Homo sapiens: one gene and its partners. The protein of the gene in region 2 interacts with the protein of the main gene of each other region in a biochemical or structural test. Each region holds a gene or a part of one and is shown on either strand. Other genes may lie near its edges.

Region 1 (7,437 bases), on a different chromosome or scaffold from region 2:
GGAACCCAAGTTAAGCACTCTTAGAACAATCAGGAAATATAGTACCTATAGGCAAATAATCTCCATAAAACTGATCTCTATCTTTTTAACCAAAGTCCAGAGAAAAAAAGAGCTTACAACAAAATAAAACCAGAACACACAGAAACCAACTGTCTCTTACTTTGTATGGCCTTCAAACTGCCTGAGGGGAGCCCTCCCACTTATATCAAAAAGTTGAACTCCACCATCTTCACTGCCAGCCACAAGCAATCTACCATCTTGTCGAAAAGTAGCACAGTATGCTGTGTCTTTAAATCGAGAAAAGGTTTTTATAGGTTCTTGGGAGTATCGGCCATAAATGTGAATCTACAAGATGAAAAACAGTATTTCACCAGATGGCTCAAGATCAGTAGTAAACTATACAAAAGAAAAATAAAGAAATTTAATATTATACTTACTCTTGAGGAAGCTGTGACAGCATAATTATATGGAGGCTGAGGAGAAAAGTCTACTTTTGAAACTGCACCAAATTCCTTAATCTGAACAGGGGTCTTAATAAAAAATAATAGTGTGTTAACAGAGTTACCACTGGTAAGACCTATTTATGCATTACATAATTTCTTACAGACCGTTTCTCTTTGTTCTTAGTAACATTTCTTAAGTTGTATTTAACATAAAATTACAAAGAAAGCAAAAAAGGTACATATCTCATCACCCAGACTATTCTTGTTGCCACTGAAATAAACATATGGTTAGAAAGCCACACCCCACTCTGTCTCTTCAGCTATTGAGTTTACTGTGATTTCTACCAGAAAAAAAAAGTTATCATGTCTACACCAGCATACAATAACCACGTACTTGTACTTTTAAAATAACAAAAAGATAATCATACCATGTAGGCTGTTCCACATCTTGCTTCTTTTCACTTAGTAACACATATTAGCTTTCATAGGAGCAATAGACTTACCATCCATTATAAGGGCACACTGTAATTTACTATACCAGTCCACTACTAATAGACATGGGTTTTTCAAGATTTCTACTATTACAAGCAATACTTCAATAAACATCTTTACACATATGAGATTCAAATTTTAAAATTTAATTCATTTGGCATTGATTGATCATCTGTTCTGTGCTAGGCATTTGTATGGTTAATCTGATTAAGCAGTATGGACTTTTACATAAAATTCCAAGAAAAAATAGATATCAAATTATCTGCCCAAACTATAAGCTGCTGATAGATGGTTTTCAGTTAATAATTCTCTGTTAGAGCATCCAGAGTATAACATATGCTAGAGAAATTGGCATAAACACAAATCCCTTCTCCCTCATTACGTCCCACACTCACCTTATAGTTGTTCCAGTACAGTGTATCTTGGGTGATTTTTTCACCAAGTATAGGATATGTCTGAATAGCTACAGGCTTATAACCAGCCATAATTCCATATAATTGCACTATTGTCCAAGAGTCACTATTTTGGAATTGGTATTAGAAATAATTACAGTGACTCTGCCTTAATTCTGAAAAATAAAATATTTTATATACATATTATAAGCTTGTACACATAGTTGATTTTCACTCTGCTTTCTTTAAAAAGTCTGTGTGGAAGTATATAGATTAGAGACCAATAAGCCATTTAATTCTAACCCAGAAAAGGCAATCTATAGGAAGCAGGAATAATTAAAGTGAAGGCTATCATATCGCACCATCTATTCAGCTGTACACAAAGGTTCTCACACCTAGCCAACCATTTTACAACACTTAGGAATAAATCTAGCACAGCCTTACAGTAGCCAAACCAAAAAGGATCATGCTGGCTTTGAGTGTCCATTTTTTGGCAACAGGAAATATTAAGGTGAAACTGCAAATACAAGTTTCCTGAAACCAAGTTTAAGATGACATTTAATCTATAACAATTATAGTTACGGATTTGATTTCCTGAAAGCCTAAAAATGCCAAGAAGTAAGAAACACAAAGCTAATATTCTAATGTAGAAGCTTAAAATTAAATTTACTTTAAAAGGTTTAAACAGTAGGAAAGAAAACTGTAATAAAGCAGTCCTGAAATTAAATTCAACACTAAAGTGGCAGAATAGGATAAAACTTTTAAATAACATGCAATCAAGCCAAAACATTTTTCCAGAACGACTCAATTGCAAAAGAGATTCAATGTTATCAGGTAAATGATTCCAGAGGTGCTGCTCATCATCTATTCCAAAAAGCCTGAAAACTTTACATTAGTAACACCACGATAAATAGGTGTAACATATATTTAAAAGGTGCTTTAATGAAATACAATGACCAATGATTGTATTTCACTGGTCTTTGGGAACACTCTTCTGTTCATTAAAGTACCTACCAATGTGCAGGACACTGCTCTAGGCACTGGGGCTATAATGGTGAATGAAATAAAGACATGGTCTGTGCCTTTGCTTACTCCAATATACTCCATTTTGGCTGGTGACTGGCACCAGATATTAACCTAGACTCAGCCTTGACGTGTCCTTTTCTTCCTCACTCCTAACATCCAAATAGTTAACAAGATCTGCTGATTTTATCTCCCAAATATTTTAAAACTCCATTAGGTTCACTTCACCTGAGGGAGCCTCGTAAGCAAAGGCAAAGATGGAAATGTGTCCATTGCCTTGGAGAGTTGCTGATTACTCCGGGAACTAACAACGGTGGACAGGAAAGGGTGTAATCGCAGAGAAGAACCTAGGTCGAAGCTTAATTGAGGGGAACTTGAGCCGGTTAAAGAATTTGGCCACTCTCCTATATAGCCTGGGAAGCCCCAGAAGAGCATGCCAGATTAACACAGGAAGGCCGGGTGTGAGTGTGGGCTTCCCTCAATGGGAGCCGCCTTCACCTACCTCCACTGAGCCCCAAAGGGTCCGACGAGACACCTCGACCCAAGGACAATTAATCGGACTGTGCCAGCTCCCTACCCTGCACAGTTCAGCAGCACTGGCGTAAAAATCACATGGACCCTCAAGGAGCCGGCGACACACACAGCGAACCGAACGTCGCGCGAAGATGACGTACCAGAGCACGCTCATGAGACTCACGCAGCCCGGCGGCGCAGAGGCGGGTCAGGTGGGCGGGGCGATCTGGAGTAGGAGGTGTGACCGGAGGGCGAAATTGGGGCTTCCTCTGCTCTGGTGACCCAGAACCGTCAACTGAAATGACCCTGTCTGTGTAGTACTCCGGCAGGATGGGCCTCGGAGCGTAAAGGCGGCAAAAACAAAAATATTAAAAAAAAGGAGAGAGGGACAAAAAAAAGAAAACCCGAAAGTTTCAGCTGCATTGCTGCGGAACGTTTTTTAGCCAGAAGGCGAAAGAAGAAATCGGAAGTGACGTCGCGGCCAAAACAAGCCCGGGCTTGGAGGCCTGTACTGAAGCTGGCCTCAGATGGGAAGGCCCGACTCGCTGTCTGCTGTCGTCGGTGGTCGCGAGACCTTGCACTCTCACCGGGTCGGCCTCCAGCCCCTGTGCCCGGGATCCGCTCGCCGCGGATGAGCGAGAGTTTCTTCCTGGGACTTTTCGGGCACAGCTGGCCGGTGGCGACAGAACGGACTTTCTTTCCTGCAAGAGTCTCCCCTCCAGCGGGAGACAGCGGGCTCCTGTCTCGGGACGCTGGGACACCTGTCGCCTGTGAGGCATCATTTATTTTCATAGCACCTTCCTCTCCTTGTAGAATAATTCCAGGATCAGGAAGAAACGAGGGGCTCCTGTTATTAGCATCCACAGGAACTAGCATAGCTGCCCACTTTATCTCCGTAGACTCTCTATCCCTTCATCCCTGGGCTCTGACAGATCGAGGTGAACCTAGCTATCGATTGCCTTACCCCCTTTTTCTCACCACCACCTCTTCTAAGTCCTGTTACCCCACTCCCCTCACCCCCGCCTCCCTCTCCTGTTCTTCAAAATTTTGGCCTACCAATCAACTTTGCTTCTCCTCTCGTTAAACTGCTGTGCCAAGATAAGCGTTCATTTTCCACCCACCCCCTTCGCCTAAGCACATTTGCTATTCTCCTCTCGAAGACCTGTAATTCCATCTATAAACCCTGATTTGTAACATGGAAGCTGTTTAGAGCTGGAAAGAATATTAGAAAGGCCTATTTCAACACCTTTTTATAATAGATGAATTTCAGAAAACTTGTATTATTTATTTGTCCAGGAGTGGCCAGCTAGTTAGTAGCGATGTTGGGAGTGGAAAGCCAGGTCTAATCAGCAAATGTTAGAAATAGAAAAGAATATGGAAAAAATTGTTAAAGTTAAGATCAGAAAACATTTATGGAGCACCTGGTAGGACCAAGTACTGTTCTGTGTGCAAAAATTAGTAAGAGTGGTCCCCATCCTAGGGGAGTTTTCAATTTAGCTGTTATTTAAATGGAAATTGTCAAAAGGATGGTGAATGCTAAAATACAGATACATGCAGGGTGCTCAGAGAGCTTAGGGGAGTTGCACTTAGCCAACCGCTGGATAGGAGAAAGGGGGAGATGGTTCTTCCCTCAGGAAACACAGTTCACATTGTCCAGTCCCTTTTAAGACGCATGGACTAATGCATTGCACATCCATCTCCCTTTGAATCACTGAACTAATTTTCTTTTCTGGTTTCCTTCTTTTTGCCCAAATGTATTAACCTTCTTACTTCCTGCTTTTTTTTTTTTTCCTTACTATACTATGTGTTATTTATTCAACTCTCTCGTGGAGATTTTGGCTTTGTTTAGGGCTGCCTCATTTTAATGGTCAGAGTGATGGAGTCAGAAGAGCTGAGTAAGCCCTCATAATTCATGAGCTTCCTTTTTTACCCCTCCTAGGTGGACATATGATTACCTGACCTGCCTACTCAAAGGATTGTTATAAAGACTAATCTTTGAAAATGTTTTTAAAATTGTAGAAGGTGGTTATCTGTAAATGTATGGTTTCGCGACCCTTGCTCCACTGCGATCCTAATGCATTTTTCTTTTAATTCCAATTCCAATTTTGAAACACCCTGCACCCTCTCAAAATTCCTAAGAGGCAATTAACCCTAACATGAAAAAATTAACTGGATGTTATTAATTTCCTTTCTGTCCCAAATGATAATGTATCTAAGACAACTATACATCTTGGAAAGCCAATCCATAATCTACCTACTTTATTTTTCATGAAAACCTACATTAAGTTGCTAATGCTTAATCGGAACAAAAATTCATAAATGTACCTTCAGTTCATCAAAACCAAAGCTTTGTAAAGCCTTTCATGGTCTAGGAATCACAGGTGTTATAGATGACAATGCCAATAAACTTGGATACAACATGAATTATCATTTCTTAAATTCAAACTAAGGGCCACCTATATAAACATAGCATATTAAAGAACTAACCTTAGGTAAGAGATTAAAGTTTATTTTCATTGTTAGCCTGATCTTTTATCCATTTGGTGATATTCAGATATAGGAAATGGGAGAAACAGTAACTAAAATGTATTGGAATTTAATGATGGAGGTGAGAATATCACTGTACAGTATTTCATTTGGTCTTTACCAGAACCCTATAAGGTTAATGGTGATATCCCTATTTTATAAATGACACGGAAGCTCAGAGGGATTGAGTAACTTCTACAGGTCACACAGCTAATTAATGGCAAAGTTTGGATTCATACCCAGGTTTCTCTACCTCTGAACATTATATTCTTTCTATTATGTGTAGGTGCTTTCAAGAGCATTGTTACAATACTTGATTGAAAATGATTATTTTGTGTGTTTTTACCTAAGCTGATAGAATACTTTTAATTTTCTAATTTTTTCTTTCAGATTTTTAAATATCCAGATTCCAAGAACACACTGGATACTGCTCTTACAAAACCAAGAGGAAATCATGAAGAAATGTTTTAGTTATTGAAACTACAGTTGAAATCATGGATACATCAACAAATCTGGATATTGGAGCCCAGCTTATCGTGGAAGAGTGTCCCAGCACTTATAGCCTAACTGGCATGCCAGACATTAAAATAGAACATCCACTGGACCCAAATTCAGAAGAAGGGTCAGCTCAGGGTGTTGCCATGGGAATGAAATTCATATTGCCTAACCGATTTGATATGAATGTGTGTTCTCGATTTGTGAAGTCCTTAAATGAAGAAGATAGTAAAAATATTCAAGATCAGGTTAACTCTGACCTGGAGGTGGCATCTGTCCTATTTAAAGGTTGAAAGTTATGGTATAAATATCTGCATTTGTTTTTGTTTTTGTATATTTGGGTTATTTTCCCAATCATGAGATTTTGAGTTTGGGAAGACAGTTTAGAAGTCATTTTTTAATATGATTTTCTGGAATCTCATAGAAACCAAAATTAAAATAATTTCAGATTATATAATATCTAATTTAAAGGAAGTACATGTTGATTTTTTTAAAAACTTCTTGTTTAATATTTGTTTACAAATTCCCTAATGAAGTTCCCTATTATTCCTTTTAAAATCATAGGGCCAGGCACAGTGGCTCATGCCTGTAATCCCAGCACTTTGGGAGGCCGAGGTGGACAGATCACTTGAGGTCAGGAGTTCAAGACCAGCCTGGCCAACATGATGAGACCTCGTCTCTACTAAAAATACAAAAATTAGCCGGGTATGGTGGCGTCCACCTGTAATCCCAGCTACTTGGGAGGCTGAGGTACAAGAATTGCTTGAACCACAGAGGCTGTGGTTGCAGTGAGCTAAGACTGTGCCACTGTACTCCAGCCTGGGTGACAGAGTGAGACTCTGTCTCAAAAAATAAAATCATAAGAAAAAAAATCATGTTCCTTTTAGAGATGAATTAGCGTAATATCCATTCCTGAATATTCCTGTTCTATGAATATTTAATATGCATTTACTTTCTGTGCTTTAATGCAGTGAAGTCTGTCATCATGCTCTAGATTTGCTTTTATAATGATACCCTGAATAATAAAACTATTCTCTTAGGATAACATCACCCAAGATTAATATATTTTCTTCCAGAACTTTCACTATGGTTATGTAGACTTTTTTTTTTCTTTGAGCCAGAGCCTCTCTCTGTCACCCAGGCTGGAGTGCAGTGGCGAGATCTTGGCTCACTGCAACCTCCGCCTTCTGGGTTCAAGCAATTCTCCTGCCTCAGCCTCCCGAGTAGCTGGGATTACAGGCGTTTGCCACCAAGCCCGGCTAATTTTTTGTATTTTTAGTAGAGATGGGGTTTCACCATGTTGGCCAGGCTGGTCTTGAACTCCTGACCTCAGGTGATCCACCTGCCTTGGCCTCCCAAAGTGCTGGGGTTACAGGCGTGAGCACCATGCCCAGCCTAGACTTTTTTTTTTTTTGACTAACCATTATGCAAACAAGGAAGTATGGACTTTAATGATAAAAACAATTTAGTATCACTTGATAAATAGTTTAATTGAAGCTATTACACCTCATGTATTTCTTTTCAAATGTAGACATTGACATAGAACTCTTACT
Region 2 (7,380 bases):
CTCAATGTAGCCTCAACCTCCTGAGCTCAAGCGATCCTTCCGCCTCAACCCTCCAAGTAGCTGGAACTATGGGCATACAACACCACACCTATCTAATTTATTTATTTATTTTTTTAGGGATGGGGTCTCACTATGTTGCCCAGGGTGGTCTTACACTCCTGGGCTCAAGTGATCCACCTGCCCTGGCTTCCCAAAGCGCTGGGTTTACAGGTGTGAGCCACTCTGCCCTGCCTCTTTTCACTTTAACGTACTAATTTTTTCTTGCTCTGAGAGTCACTGACAGAGCTAAGCAATCGTATCTAGTAGGAAAGGGAATATAGGGAAAGCAGGAAACCAGCCTGAGTTAATTAATTGTTGAAGAATAAAGAAAACAGATGAAGGAGAAAAGAAAATAAGGAACACTAGGTAAGGAATGGTTGACTTATCCATTCAAGAAACATTAAGCAGTGGCTTTGTAGGAGGCGCTTGATAAATGGTGGGAATGCAGATGTGAGTATCACTGACATGGTTCCTATCCTCATAAAATTGGAAGTTCAGCATGGAAGAAAGACATTAAACAAACACACAAATTATATAGTTATAACTGTTACAAATGACAAACAGAAAAATCATAATATGGCCATGACTGTTAAAAAAAAAAAAAAAGAAGAAGAACAAGACCAAGAAAAAGATAATCAGTCTGGTATGAGGGCTCACACCTGTAATCCCAGCACTTTGGGAGGCTGAGGTGGGCAGATCACTTGAGGTCAGGAGTTCGAGACCAGGCTGGCCAACATGGTGAAACCTCGTCTCTATGAAAATAAAAAAATTAGCGAGGCATGGTGGCACACCTGTAATCCCAGCGACTTGGAAGGCTGAGGCAGGAGAGGGAGGCAGAGGTTGCAGTGAGCCAAGATCACGCCACTGCACTCCAGCCTGGGTGACAGAGCAAGACTCCGTCTCCAAAAAAAAAAAAAAAAAGAAAAAGAAAAAAAAAGAAAATCACAGGATGCAATAAGCACACGCCAGCGCATGTTCTTCATACCACAGAATGTAACCCATTTGTGGTGGTCCTGTAGTTTTTACCTTTTGATTAGTTCTTCAGGGGTGAGCTCAGTAAATCATCCCTTTCCACATTTCCTAAACCCACCTCTCAGGGAAGGCAATTCTCTGAATTGCCTTCCCTGAAGGCAATTCAATGAAGGTTCTATGCCTGTGTTTCGGTTTATCATATTTATTTTACAGGTTGGAAACTGTACACTTATCTTTCTCCCACTGGTCTTTGAGCTCCGTAAAGTTAGGGCCTCTGACATTTGTCTTAGTGCCCAGTATTTGCCACTCATTCACCGAGAAACATTTACAGAATGCCTAAATTCCAGGTACCAGGCTGCTGGGCACTGAATTCACTCATTTGCCCATCTACTCATTTATATCACAGCACCCAGTACATAACAGTCATTCAACATGAACTAAGATGTTGCACCCGAAGAAAATCACTAGTCAGTGCCCTTGGAGGGGAGAAGAAAAAGGACTAATAGACCTCTGCATACACCCAAAGGACATTTTACCTAATTTTAAATCTCCTTTACTCCCAAATGTAGACATGTAGGTCTACATTCTCTCAGACAGATGAACTTTGGAATCCATCTTCCCACATCACCAAAAAGTTTCTGATATTAAAACGTGTTATCATTTTTTCTGAATTGACAATGAAACAGTACTGATACTCCCTGCAGGAAATTTTGCTTACCAAAGCTGCAATGGTGTTGAGACTGATATACCAACAATTTCCCTTCCTGTGTCCAAAAGATCCAGCAAACCTCAGTTTCCAATGACAGGCAGTGAGATGTCACATTTCTAGGTAGGACCCTTCTAATCAACATTACACAGATTGAAACTGAGCTTCTCTTATCAGTTAGGAGATCTCAGAAGTTTGGTAGTTCTAAGCAACTTCAGAGGGGCTAGGAAGTCACTCAATCAGTTTGATTATAAAAGACATACAAGCTTCTTGAACTTCAGAAGAAATTAACATCAAAACACCATATCAGACTCCCAAATGACTTACTTTCTCCTGAAAGTAGTTTGCTGACAAGTTATAAATTTCCACAGTGCCATCTGTTCGTGAAACAGCCAATCTGTTTGACTGGTTATTGTAAGCCACACAGCGGATTCCTGATGGAACATAATTAAAGAAACGTACTCGATGGACCTTAAATTCACCCATTCCTAGGGGGCGAAAAGAGAGTCATTATTGCTATATGTTAACTGCAGTATGTCACATATAGTATTCAGTTCCTTAATATCACTGTTCTGGCTGGAAGGCTCCAACAACATCTCCCTGAAGTTCATTTCCAAATGGCTGCTAACAATGCCCCCCACAAGAATTACTCAATCTTCAAAAGCTCAGAATGGCTTGAATAATAAGGAGGCTTCAGCAAAAAATCAAAAAGGGTCCTACTCCATAGCTCCAGAGTTCCTATCTCGGGGCGCCTAGGAATCCGCATTTTAGCAAGCATCTCTCCTCAACTCTATTGCTAAGTTTGCAAACAACAGACCTAAACTGAGGTAGTGACAGTGAGGCTGATGGGGCAGGCAGAACCGAGCTCCTCTTGAGGAAGAAACGACAGGGTTTGACTTAATCTGGCTGCCTGGTCTGACGTCTGTCACTTACCCTACCCCGTCCCCCCGACGCCCGCCAACATATATACTGGCCGAGAGTAGAGACCAGGTCTTGTTCGCCCCTCACTGGCCTAGCTTCAAGGTTAGGAACCCGCAGACAGAGCAAGCGCGTTCGGTCGGGCCGGGGCGTCTGAGGCGCGCGCGGTCTTCGCCTCCCCTTCCCTCTCCCCGAGTCTACAGAGTAGCCCCCACCCCGCCTCGGGACAAGGAGACCCTCGGGACAAGGAGCTCAGCCGGACGCCGACCCTGGGCCGGCCACCTTGTAAGACCCCCCCAGCTCTCGCAGCCGCTTCCCACGCCCCTTCCCCAACTCACCAGCGGCCCCACGCTCCCCTTCCCGGTGCTCGCCTCTCTCCGCCCCGGCCCCACGTGCGCGCGCGCTCTCAGGCTCTGCCCCGGAAGTGCTCCTGGCGCATAGTCGGAAGTGCGCAGGCAGTGCTCGCGGCGGCGGCGACGGCGGCGGGAGGTTCGGTTGTCGCCCGTTGGCCGCGCGGCGCCGCGCTCGGCGGCCGCCATTGCAGGTCAGGCCGCGGGCGGGGGGCACGGGAGGCTGCGGGGAGCGAGGGCCGAGCCGGGATTGGGGGCGAGGGCGCGAGGGAGCGGGAAGCTAGGGAGCCGGGGCCGGGCGGGGCGCGCGGCTCGGAGAGAAGAATGGCGAGCCGAGGGGCGGGGAGCGCGGGCGGGGGAGGGGTGGCCGGGAAGGGGGAGGGCGGCGGGAGGGCGGCGCGGAGGTGGGGGCAAGCCCGGAGGGGCCTCCGGGGTGGGAGGGCCAGGAGTGTGGGGGAAGGGAGCGGTGTGGAGACGGAAGGCGGAGGGAAGGAAGGGAGCGAGCGGGGCGGAGCGGGAGAAGGGCGGAAAGGGTGGCCGAGCGCGGGCGGAGGACGGAGAAGGGGGCGGCGAGGGCCGGAATCTCGAGGTACGTGCGGGAAGGGGCTCTTCCCGGGGTTGGGAGGGAGCCCAGCCCGCTATGCTTGCGGGAGCGGAGTAGAACTGGAACCTAGGAAGTAGCGGGAAGAGCAGAAAGGGGAGTTCGGGGTGGGGGTTAGGACCGTGAGGTTTTGTTCCAGGTAACATTTGTAATCGTGGAGGGGGGAGGCTTCTGGGAGAGGTAATTGGAAGGGTGGTTGGAGAGTCATTCCAGGTTCTTTTGTGGGAGGGAAGCCGAGAGACGAGTGGGGTGGGGTCCTGGAGGAGTGGAGTACTTGAGAACCGGGAACAATTTGGAGAACGAGGGTGGTAGAGAAAGGACGTTTAAAGAGTAATCTTTGGGAAGAGGGTGAACGGTTTGGAAGACCACTCCAGTGGGTGGTGTGGAGGAAGGCGGTTTAAAGAATAGTTTCCCTGGGAGGCAGGAAAAGGGGTTAAAACAGCTTGTAATTTGGAGGGGGGTGGAGAAGAGGGGGGAAGCGGATTGAGAAGTCCCAGAAAGTGGGTGGGACTAGAAATAGGAAGTGTTTGTAGCTCTAGCAGAAAGGGTGGGAGGGGGCCGAGAGGGAGTGGGTGGAGAAGATGGGGGTGGGTGGGAGGAAGAGCACAGAGGGAGACTCTACGCCGGGCTAGAAAGGAAAGGGTTTGGGGGAGTACAGGGGGCCGTACCATTAAGAGGAGGACAGGCTAAGATGGGGCTGCAGAGTAGCAGAAGATGGAGAAAACTGCAGTAACTCAGATCGACTGAAGCCATCTTTTCCACCCATTGCTACAAATACCAGTAATTGATTCCCTCCAACGTGGGAATCCTAAAATGTGATGGGAAGTATCACGTGTATGCATAGCATCCACACACGTTTTTGAACACACTTCACTAATGTAAAGTTTGGAAGCATTCAATTCCACCAACCCTCCATAAGCCCCTTTTTGGAGGGGAGCAAGATTCTCATTTGGAAACAGGATTTTAGACTTAGTAACATAAGCCTTTCAAGAGACAAGATCCCCTTCAAAAGTATAGACCTGTCCCCTTCAGTTACAAAACCACGATAACACTACAAATAAAAATAATCTGTATTCGGTTGTATGTAAAACGTTCTGAGTTGTTCACTTGGTAGAAAGGCACATAGAGACATAGTCATCATATTTAGAGAAATTACCTTCCAGAACTTAATCCCTGAAGCAGTTTGGTGAACCACAACTGCCATGTTTGAATTCTACTGTTATGAAAACTTGATTTTATTCTGATGACCTGCTGCTTTCGTAGAATGCTTTAGTCCGTTATAAACATTAATATGCTAACACAGTGTAGTATTAAGACATTCTATTTGATGAATACTAAGAAAATGCCACCTTTCTCTGGGAAATCGATAGCTTGACCCTGAAGGCTTACCATGTGTCAGACAATGTGCTAAAAGCTTTACATTCATTACTCGTTCTTGCAACAGCCTTTCAAAATAGGTGTTTATGCCCAGTGTATTGTTAGGAAAACACGTGAGGTTAAACTACCCACTGTCACATATGGGATAGGTGGCAAAATCACAGAATCCAGGTCTGTATGACAAGTGAGTGCTTCACTATATTCGTAAACAAAGTATCCACCCTGGGATCAAAAAACAAAAGCTCAATAAATGCCAACTGTTGGCCTAGCAAAAAATAGAAAATTGTGAATATTTACACTCTGAAATAATTGATTTCACCCCAGTTTAGAAAAGAATGTTTAAGGGTTGAGAATTTAAAGGCTTGGTTTCCTGTTTGAAAAAAAAACAAAATTTCTAAAACGTTGTTTAGCTTTATTAAAATTTAGTTATTTGTATTGAGGTTAAACCGTTGAGTCAAAGCCTCTTTTTTGCTATAAGCCATATGTTCGGTTTAATTGGATACATATCACACTTTCTTCTGCCACATTTTATTTTGAAGGATTATGAGGATCATTGCTCAGGCTGTTCTGTTCTCTGTAAGACAGTAATCTTTTAACAATTTAATATTTAACAATTCAGAGACCAGAGGGTAAGAATTAAATTCTGTGGAAGATTAAAATGAATACTTGACAAAGAATGTCCTCTATTCTCTTGACTTTCACATTCAGGAGCAGAGGGTAAAGCTTTGCGTCCTAGAGGTGGCATTGAGTAGATTTTTCTAAAAGTTTCAAAAACTGAAACATCTCAATTGGGTATGATAAAAAGCAAGCTGCTTCTTTGTTTTTAGCTGCCTACCCCACAGATATAATACTTTGGTGGCAAGTTACAAGGTCTTTCCATAGGTTACTTTGCCATTTTGTAAGAGATGCTGTGAGAACGAGGCTAATATTTGTAAAGCAAGGGAAGTTATCATACAGAGGTGCTTTACAGGAGGGGGCTGTGTGAGGAGAACTGCAAGAGGGGCCAGATTGTGGAGGGGTTAGGGTTCATATCCCAGCTCTCCACTTAAGTAGCTGTGTGACCAGTTAACATTTAGCTCCTCTAAGCCTGTTTCCTCATTTGTGAAATGGGAGTGAGAAGACCTTGCTAAAAGCATAGGGTGTCAGGGTGAAATAAGAGGATACAGATAAGTGAACGAGGCTAGCTTGTGAGAAATGAAGCCTTTTGTATTATAAAAATAATGTTCTGCCTGGACTTTACTTTTCTTCCTTTTTTTTTTTTTTTTTTTTTGTGACGGAGTCTCGCTCTGTTGCCTAGGCTGGAGTGCAGTGGCGTGATGTCGGCTCACTGCAACCTCTGCCTCCTGGGTTCACGCCATTCTCCTGCCTCAGCCTCCTGAGTAGCTAGGACTACAGGCACCTGCCACCACGCCCGGCTAATTTTTTGTATTTTTACTGGAGAGGGGGTTTCACTGTGTTATCCAGGATGATCTCGATCTCCTGACCTCGTGATCTGCCCGCCTCGGCCTCCCAAAGTGCTGGGATTACAGGTGTGAGCCACCGCACCCGGCCTCTGCCTGGGCTTTTCTTAAGAAATCATGGTGGTGCTTTGATTTGCCAGTTTTTTTTTTGTTTTGTTTCAGTTTGTCTGTTTTTTGAGATGGAATCTTGCTCTGTCACCCAGGCTAGAGTGCAGTGGCACAGTCTCGGCTCACTGTAACTACCGCCTCCCAGGATCAAGCGATTTTCCTGCCTCAGCCTCCTGAGTAGCTGGGATTACAGGTGAGCGCCACCATGCCTGGCTAATTTTTGTATTTTTCGTAGAAACTGGGTTTCACCATGTTGGTCAAGCTGATTTCGAACTCATGACTTCATGATCTACCCGCCTTGGGCTCCCAAAGTGCTGGGATTATAGACGTGAGCCACCGTGCCTGGCGGGTTTTTTATAATAATAGTTACTAATTTCAAAAGAGAGAGAGAAGCCAAATGCTGGTTAAATAAGGTATATTCTAGAGTGGTCTGATTACAGCCAAAGCTTTTTAGTTTTGGGTAGGGTTCCCATTGTGGGTCAGGATTGATTCTTTGAATGCTGGTGCCTTTTTGAGGGGAAAAAAGTTTCCTTTACTGAGATAAAGTCGTTTGACTAACTTAGGAATACAGAATTTATGTATTGTTTAGTTCATTTAGCTGCGTGAAGGCCCATAAAGATCAAGTAGAAAACTTTTTTCCCTCCTCATGAGATTGGGGACAGGATACATAATTTATTGCAGGGAAAGGTTTGGTTTTCTTTATACCTTCTTATCTTTCCAAGGCTACACATGAGTTGTGGCCTGTGAGTCTGATACCACACTGTAATATAATGAATTTAAATCTTTTTGAAAAGCTACATCACAGAAGTCTCTCCCTGGCTCTGCAGTTAACCTTGTCAACCTAGAATT
Region 3 (7,022 bases), on a different chromosome or scaffold from region 2:
TCATCTTTTCCTTCGGCATCCTCATCTTCCTCTTCAACGTCCTCATCTTTTTCACTTTCACTCTCCTCCTCATCTTCATCCCAATTATCCTAGTCGAAATACCAACAAGGAAAGCATTCATGAAGGTCTCATTCTTACAGAGTATGAGGATATAAAGGCCGATGTATATACAGGGAACAAATCACTCACTTCAGAATCCTTATCTGCTATTTCATCATCAGACTCCTCTTCAGAAGACTCTGTAAGGGGAGAAAGAACCCAGCCTTAATTTTAGAACAAAACAGAGGGTACAGCCTGGAAATTAAGCAGAACCAGATTCCTGAATTTACTTTTAGAAATATTATTTATATTTAGCAATCATCCAACTAAGAAATAACATTATTTTATTATTTTTTTTTTTTGCAGGCTGGAGTGCAGTGGAGCAATCTTGGCTCACTGCAACCTCTGCCTCCCAGGTTCAAGCCTCAGGCTCCTGCCTCAGCCTCCTGAGTAGCCGCCACACCCAGCTAATTTTTGGTATAGACAGGGTTTCACCATGTTGCCCAGGCCGATCTCAAACTCCTGGACTCAAAGGATCCGCTCACGTCTGCCTCCCAAAGTGCTGGGATTATAGGCATGAGCCACCACACCTGGCTAATTTATTCTTACATGTATAAAAGTATATTCATTATATTATTCCTTCAAGATCTCACCGGTCCAAACCAACTAGCCAAACCCTTACAAAAATCTCATCTTTAAATACTAAGCCCTATCAGGGCCACCAAATAGCCCCAGTGGATGAGGAAAAATTCAACACAGAAAAGCTGGCTTATAAACGAAATGGAAGAATTAGCATTATTTAACCCATAAAGTACTAATAATGAAATATTAGCAACTGATATATTAGATGTATGATTGTTGGGGGAAAACATGCAAACGTTAAAACAAAAATTAACACAGCTAGATTATTTTCTAAGCACTAAGGAAGATATATCTCACAATGGAGAGGAAAAAACTGATAACAGGCACAATGTGGTTCTTAGTGTGCTGCAATATGAACGATCAGCATTGATGCAACCCTCCAAAAATAAAATCCAATCAAACCTTTAGGCCTCACATCCAGTTTAAAGGAACTGTAGCTTAGAGGAGCAAATTAAAAGAAACCAAAAGGAAGCAAATCCACAAACATAAGGTGGGGCATTCTGTGAAATACACTTCCCAGTCTCTTCACCAAGTCCATGTCATGAAAAAGGGAGTTCTTAAAGACTAAAAAGAGTCTTCAGAAACACAGTAGCCAGATTCAACCCCATGATGCAAAACTCGAGTCTAGTTTGGGAAAAACAGCTTTAAAGGATATTTTACGGATAACTGGAGAAAGATGAAGATAAACTGGGCATTGGATAAAACTAAGGAATTGATTTCATTAGGTGTGCTAATGTTATCCAATAATACAGAATGGGATTCCTATTTTTTTAAGATATTCTAACATTCTTCTTCTATCTACTTTTTCTTAAGAAAATAAATCATTATCTCCAGATGAAGTTCCCTTACATGCCCATCTCCCTAAGCCCATTCCCCAAAAGAAACCACTATTGTGAGCTTCTCATTCTCCAGTATGCTGTTATAACACATACATCATACTACCCATGAATTACACATGTACATATTCATGAAAGACATATGCAGCAGTTCCCCCAATATGTGTTCCTTTTCCCCAGTTTCAGTTTCCCCTGGCAACTGCAATCCAAAAATATTAAATGGAAAATGTACCAAATCCAGGATCCCTAAGTTTTAAATTGCGCCCTGTTATGTGCAGCGTGATGAAGTGCCGTGCTATCTGGCTCCGCCTGGCCGGAGAGGTAAATCATCCCTTTGTCCAGCTTCGCTGTCTACACTAGCCACCCGTTAGTCGTTTAGTAGCCACCTCAGTTATCAAATCGAATGTTGCAGTATCGCGGAGCTTATGTTCAAGCCACCCTTATTTTGCTTACTAATACAATTACACGATGCTACACAGAAGGTATCATTTTTTGACTTGGTTTTGTAATCAAACTTATGCGTGTTAACTCGATCTCAACTCCAGGCACTCTCACCAATGTAGTGTTATGCTAAAGGAATAAACCATTTTAAACATGCTCCCACTAATGAAGAATTATGTTGTTCACAAGTCTTTTTCTTAATTATAAAGGCTGCAATGAACATACTTATATAATCTCTACATATATGTTTTAAAGCTATGTTGTCAAGCCTTTTAGCCTTAAAATGCTTTCACATTCTTAAAAAACTGAGGTCTCCAAAAAGTTTTTGTTTATGTGGGAAAAGTCTATCTATATTTATCACATTCAAATTCAATTTTTAAATTTAAGAATATTTAATCTGTTTACAAATGCCCATCCATTACATGTTAACACAAATCAATTTAATGAAAAACAGTATTTCTGTGCTCTCTTCGGCAGCACATACACTAAAATTGAAAAATGGAATTTCCAAAACAACAACAAATTCTACTAAGTAGAATGGCACTATTAAAAACTTCTCATATCTGCTTCTCCACTCTATTTTTTGGATATGTTGTTTTATTTGAACTATATGAAGAAAATCTAGCCTCCCACAGATGACCGATTGAAAAGCGGAGGACATCATGAGCCGCTCAAAGAGTTCTGGGCATCCCCACAGGTCCTCTGTTCATACTTGGAGAAGTATTGGTCACTGGGATACACACAAGCACTTTGGGATCACTTTGGGACTGCACTTGATGAATGGAAGGATATGCAAATTGTCAACTTTGAGATTACAAAGTTGCTCTCTAAAAAGAATGCACATGTACTCCCACCACAGCATGAGCTCCCATTTCCCAAATCATGGCCAACACCTGACCATTTTCACTCTTTCAAATTTATCCATTTCTCACAATATGGAATGTGATGTGTGATGTGATAATGGTAAAATTTTTTGTTCCATATAAATTATCAGTGTTTCTAACAACTTACTGAGCAGGCTATCTTCTCCACAATGATACAATACACACCATCAATAAACACACCAAGAGTCCACAGAACTACGGGTTTTTCAGGGGTAGCTATTGCCAATCTATTGGTCTAGCTGTCTATTATTGCACATTAACTCTGTAACCCTACACTTCTATAATCAATTTGCTACTCAGGGTATTTGAGGATGATCTAAAATGTTCCCTTTTTGACATTTCCAGGTTTTGTTATCAAGATTATACTTGGCTCATAAAATGACTAAATTGCCAGTACATGACAAAAAGGACAGCCCAGTGTTGTGGGTCATGCTTCTATTCCCAGCACTTTGGGAAGCTGACGCGAGAAGACCGTTTTTGAGGCCACGGTGTACAAGATCAGCTTGGGCAACAAAGAGACCTCATCTCTACCTTTAAAAAAAGAAAATTGGCCAGGCATGGTGGCTCAACAGTCCCAGCTACTCTAGAGGCTGAAGCAGGATGATCGCTTGAGTGTAAGAGTTTGAGGCTGCAGTGAGCTATGATTGACCTCGAGCCACTGCACTCCAGCCTGAGCAACAGAGAGAGTCTGTGCAAAAAAGAAAAGAAAAGATTTGTTCTTTGAAGGCCTGATCAAATAACCTTCAAAATATCTGGGCATATCTTGTGAGAAGTTTTATAAAGTCAATTTTAGAGCTACTGGCTTTTTCAAACTTTTTATTTCTTTTAAAGTCAATTTTGGTCATTAATGTTTCCTTAAAAATTAACTATACCACCTAGACTTTTAAATGTATTTACACTAAGTTTGTTCATATAATGTTCTTCTATTTAAATATTTTCCATACCTGGCCAGGCATGGTGGCTCACACCTGTAATCCAAGCACATTGGGATCACTTGAGCCCAGGAGTTTGAGACCATCCTGGGCAACATAGTGAAACTCTGTCTTTACAAAAAAATACCAAAGTTGGCCGGGCATGGTGGTGCACGCCTGTAGTCCCAGCTACTCAGGAGGCTGAGACAGGAAGATTGCATTGAGCCCAGGAGGTTGAGGCTGCAGCAAGCTGTGATCACAGCACTGCACTACAACCTAGGCAACAGACTGAGACTGTCTTAAAAAAAAAAAAAAAGAAAAGAAAAAAAAAATCTTCCATAACTAATGCCCTTTTTTGTCACTGTATTATACTTGTGCCTTTTCTTTTCTTATCTGATGAATTACAGATTTTTGCCACGGACTTGCCTATTTTAATTAGAGAAGGCTTGCCAAAGGAAGATCTTATGTTGACGTTTTCAAAAAGATAACAGAACTCAGTCACTGAAAACTGAATGTTATAATTCTAGACTCCATCCCATTCCCCCAGTCTTTACCTTCTTCATACACCAACTTTGCCTTCTGTCCAGGGGAAGTTGCTCCCTTTGTCTTCTCTGATGCTGTTACCTGGAAGAAGATAAAGTACTGTTCTGAAGTAGAGTGTAAACATATCCCAAGTATCACGACCACCAGCATACCCAACCTTCCCCACTGCTTGCTGCTAACTCACCCTCCACCACCATAATGGAGGACCTTCATACAATACAGAGCAAAAAAGTCCTTCAAATACAAGAGGGAAAGAATTACTCTGTAAAGCTGAAAAACTCTGAGGTGATTAGAATATCTTTCTGTGCCAAAATTTTAACTGTATAAATATCCTATAACTTACTAACTGTATAACAACTGAAACACAATGGTGAGAAAAAGATTTGAGTAAAAGTTGAAACAGACACAACTAAACTTTCTTACTGTCAAACTGATAAGCTTTCCAAGTTAAAGACTAGATCCTGATTTACCAATTTCTTACTGAAACAGGGAGCTCTCAGCCAGGCGTGGTGGGTCACGCCTGTAATTCCAGCACTTTGGGAGGTCAAGGTGGTAGGATCCCTTGAGCCTAGGAGTTCAAAACCAGCCTAGGCAATGCCATCTCTACGAAAATTTAAAAATTAGCCAGGCATGGTGGTGCATCCGTGTAGTCCCAGCTACTTGGGAGGCACTTGAGCGAGGCTGCAGTGAGCTATGATCATGCTACCGCAGTGCAGCCTGAGCGACAGAGCAAGACCCTGTCTCAAAATGATCCTTATTCCTCTCTCCATTCCTACCATGTCCAAAAGTTTTAGCCCAGAACAATATGATTTACTCACTTGTGTAATTAGAAGAATAAGCTTTCCATGAAGGTGTGAAAGTTTCTGAAAAGTTTTGACTCTGCTTTCCATTAACTGGTAGAGTGTCCCCAGCTGGGGTACCAGGTCAGGCAACTAGAGAAAAAAATGATCATTTGGCACTATTAACGTATTAGAGATGACGAACACGCAAATCATGCTCAGCTATGCCTCAGTATTTAGCCACTGCACCACACACATCTGCTTACAAGTACTCCCAGTGGCAGTGGCTACCTGCAACATAGCCTAACAACATCACGAATTTTCACAGAAGACCCTCAATGTCCTAGGAGGAAAAAATAATAGGCTTATAAAAAAAATGATATAAGGGCAAGAGAGTGAAACTGCAAGGTGGCACTTTTCTGTATTGATCAAACTATTTCAGATAAGGCCAATATCCCATATAAAGTAGACAGGAAATTAAAAATGCCTCTACCACGTATCTCCAGGCTAAAGAGGCTTTCCTCTGAATCTTATCCTCTGATGCTAGCATATTATCTACCCTTACTGTAAGGCCCCAAAGAGGCAGAGAAGCCTTTTCCCAGCTCCCAGAGACCAGTAGAACAAAGTACAAAGTTGACCTTTTGCATTTTAAATATACTTCCTGTTAATGAGTCCTCTGAAACATATTTAAAAAATGAAAGTAGGACATTCTCTTTTTTGCTCCCATGTTGCTCTCATCAGAGTCTTTTGTATTGAGAATATAGCTGTTATATTTGGAACACAACACGACTGATAAAGGTCTGGCTCCTCCAGGTTCACTGAGGAATAAAACAATGGTAATTTGCCTTTCTCATAAAATCTTAAAGTCCCCTTGATCATTTTTAACAATATGAAAGGAAACCATGATGGCCATAATTTTTCTATCCTAGATCAACTATAAAAAGCAACTGGAAAAATTTAAATGCCTCTTTTTAAAGGAAGCCATTTGGAAGTCCAGAACAAGCCTCTTCCTGTCCCACTGCCTTCAAATACCTGCCTCTGGTTAATTTTCCTCCCATCTCTGGGCTCTAAGAACAACGCTGGCAGCTGGGCGCGGTGGCTCATGCCTGTAATCCCAGCACTTTGGGAGGCTGAGGCGGGCAGATCACCTGAGGTCAGGGGTTCAAGACCAGCCTGACCAACATGGAGAAACCCCATCTCTACTAAAAACACAAAAATTAGCCAGGCATGGTGGCATGTGCCTGTAATCCCAGCTACTCGGGAGGCTGAGGAAGGAGAATCATTTGAACTCATAAGGCGGAGGTTGCGGTGAGCCAAGATCGTGCCATTGCACTCCAGCCTAGGCAACAAGAGCAAAACTCCGTCTCAAGAAAAAAAAAAAGAAAAAGAACAACGCTGGCTTCCCCACCTCACCCCCTACCCCCGTGATATTCTGATATTCTTTTATCTGTCCCTGTAGCACTACAGAAAAACGGACTCCATTCTTTTTTTTTTTTTTTTTTGAGACGGAGTCTCGCTCTGTCGCCCAGGCTGGAGTGCAGTGCCATGAACTATGCTCACTGCAACCTCTGCCCCCCCGGGTTCACGCCATTCTCCTGCCTCCCTCAGCCTCCCGAGTAGCTGGGACTACAGGCACCTGCCATCACGCTCGGCTAATTTTTTGTATTTTTAGTAGAGACGGGGTTTCACCGTGTTAGAAAGGATGGTCTTGATCTCCTGAACTCATGATCCACCCGCCTCAGCCTCCCAAAGTGCAGGGATTACAGGTGTGAGCCACCGTGCCCAGACTCCACTCCTTACCTCTGATTAGCCTTTACCTGCACTCCTATTTCTAATACTTTAGTAAAAAAGTGTTTCATTCAAATGTTAACTTTAAACAGCAGACAGACACAAAAATTAGTAAAGCAAGGTTTAAGGTCATTGCATTCCAATTTATCACCTCCCTTT

The links. Proteins that work in one complex are often made in the same cells at the same time.
Region 1: the proteins of UTP4 (region 2) and UTP15 form a complex in vitro, tested with the Homo sapiens proteins (one study listed by IntAct).
Region 3: the proteins of UTP4 (region 2) and WDR43 form a complex in vitro, tested with the Homo sapiens proteins (one study listed by IntAct).

The regions. Positions count from the first base shown.
Region 1 is NC_000005.10:73,561,328-73,568,764, reverse strand, and holds the start of UTP15 (U3 small nucleolar RNA-associated protein 15 homolog), read right to left. Parts: upstream 3,023-7,437; 5' UTR 2,853-3,022; exon of another isoform or gene 2,579-2,852; intron 1,504-2,578; 5' UTR 1,421-1,503; coding exon 1,331-1,420; intron 531-1,330; coding exon 438-530; intron 346-437; coding exon 161-345; intron 1-160. Other genes in the region: ANKRA2 (ankyrin repeat family A protein 2), read left to right, coding at 5,884-6,172. UniProt on the Homo sapiens protein: Ribosome biogenesis factor. Involved in nucleolar processing of pre-18S ribosomal RNA. Required for optimal pre-ribosomal RNA transcription by RNA polymerase I.
Region 2 is NC_000016.10:69,128,283-69,135,662, reverse strand, and holds the start of UTP4 (U3 small nucleolar RNA-associated protein 4 homolog), read right to left. Parts: upstream 3,015-7,380; 5' UTR 2,974-3,014; intron 2,206-2,973; 5' UTR 2,204-2,205; coding exon 2,045-2,203; intron 1-2,044. UniProt on the Homo sapiens protein: Ribosome biogenesis factor. Involved in nucleolar processing of pre-18S ribosomal RNA. Part of the small subunit (SSU) processome, first precursor of the small eukaryotic ribosomal subunit.
Region 3 is NC_000002.12:28,939,667-28,946,688, reverse strand, and holds part of WDR43 (WD repeat-containing protein 43), read right to left. Parts: intron 5,229-7,022; coding exon 5,115-5,228; intron 4,378-5,114; coding exon 4,308-4,377; intron 240-4,307; coding exon 190-239; intron 90-189; coding exon 1-89. UniProt on the Homo sapiens protein: Ribosome biogenesis factor that coordinates hyperactive transcription and ribogenesis. Part of the small subunit (SSU) processome, first precursor of the small eukaryotic ribosomal subunit.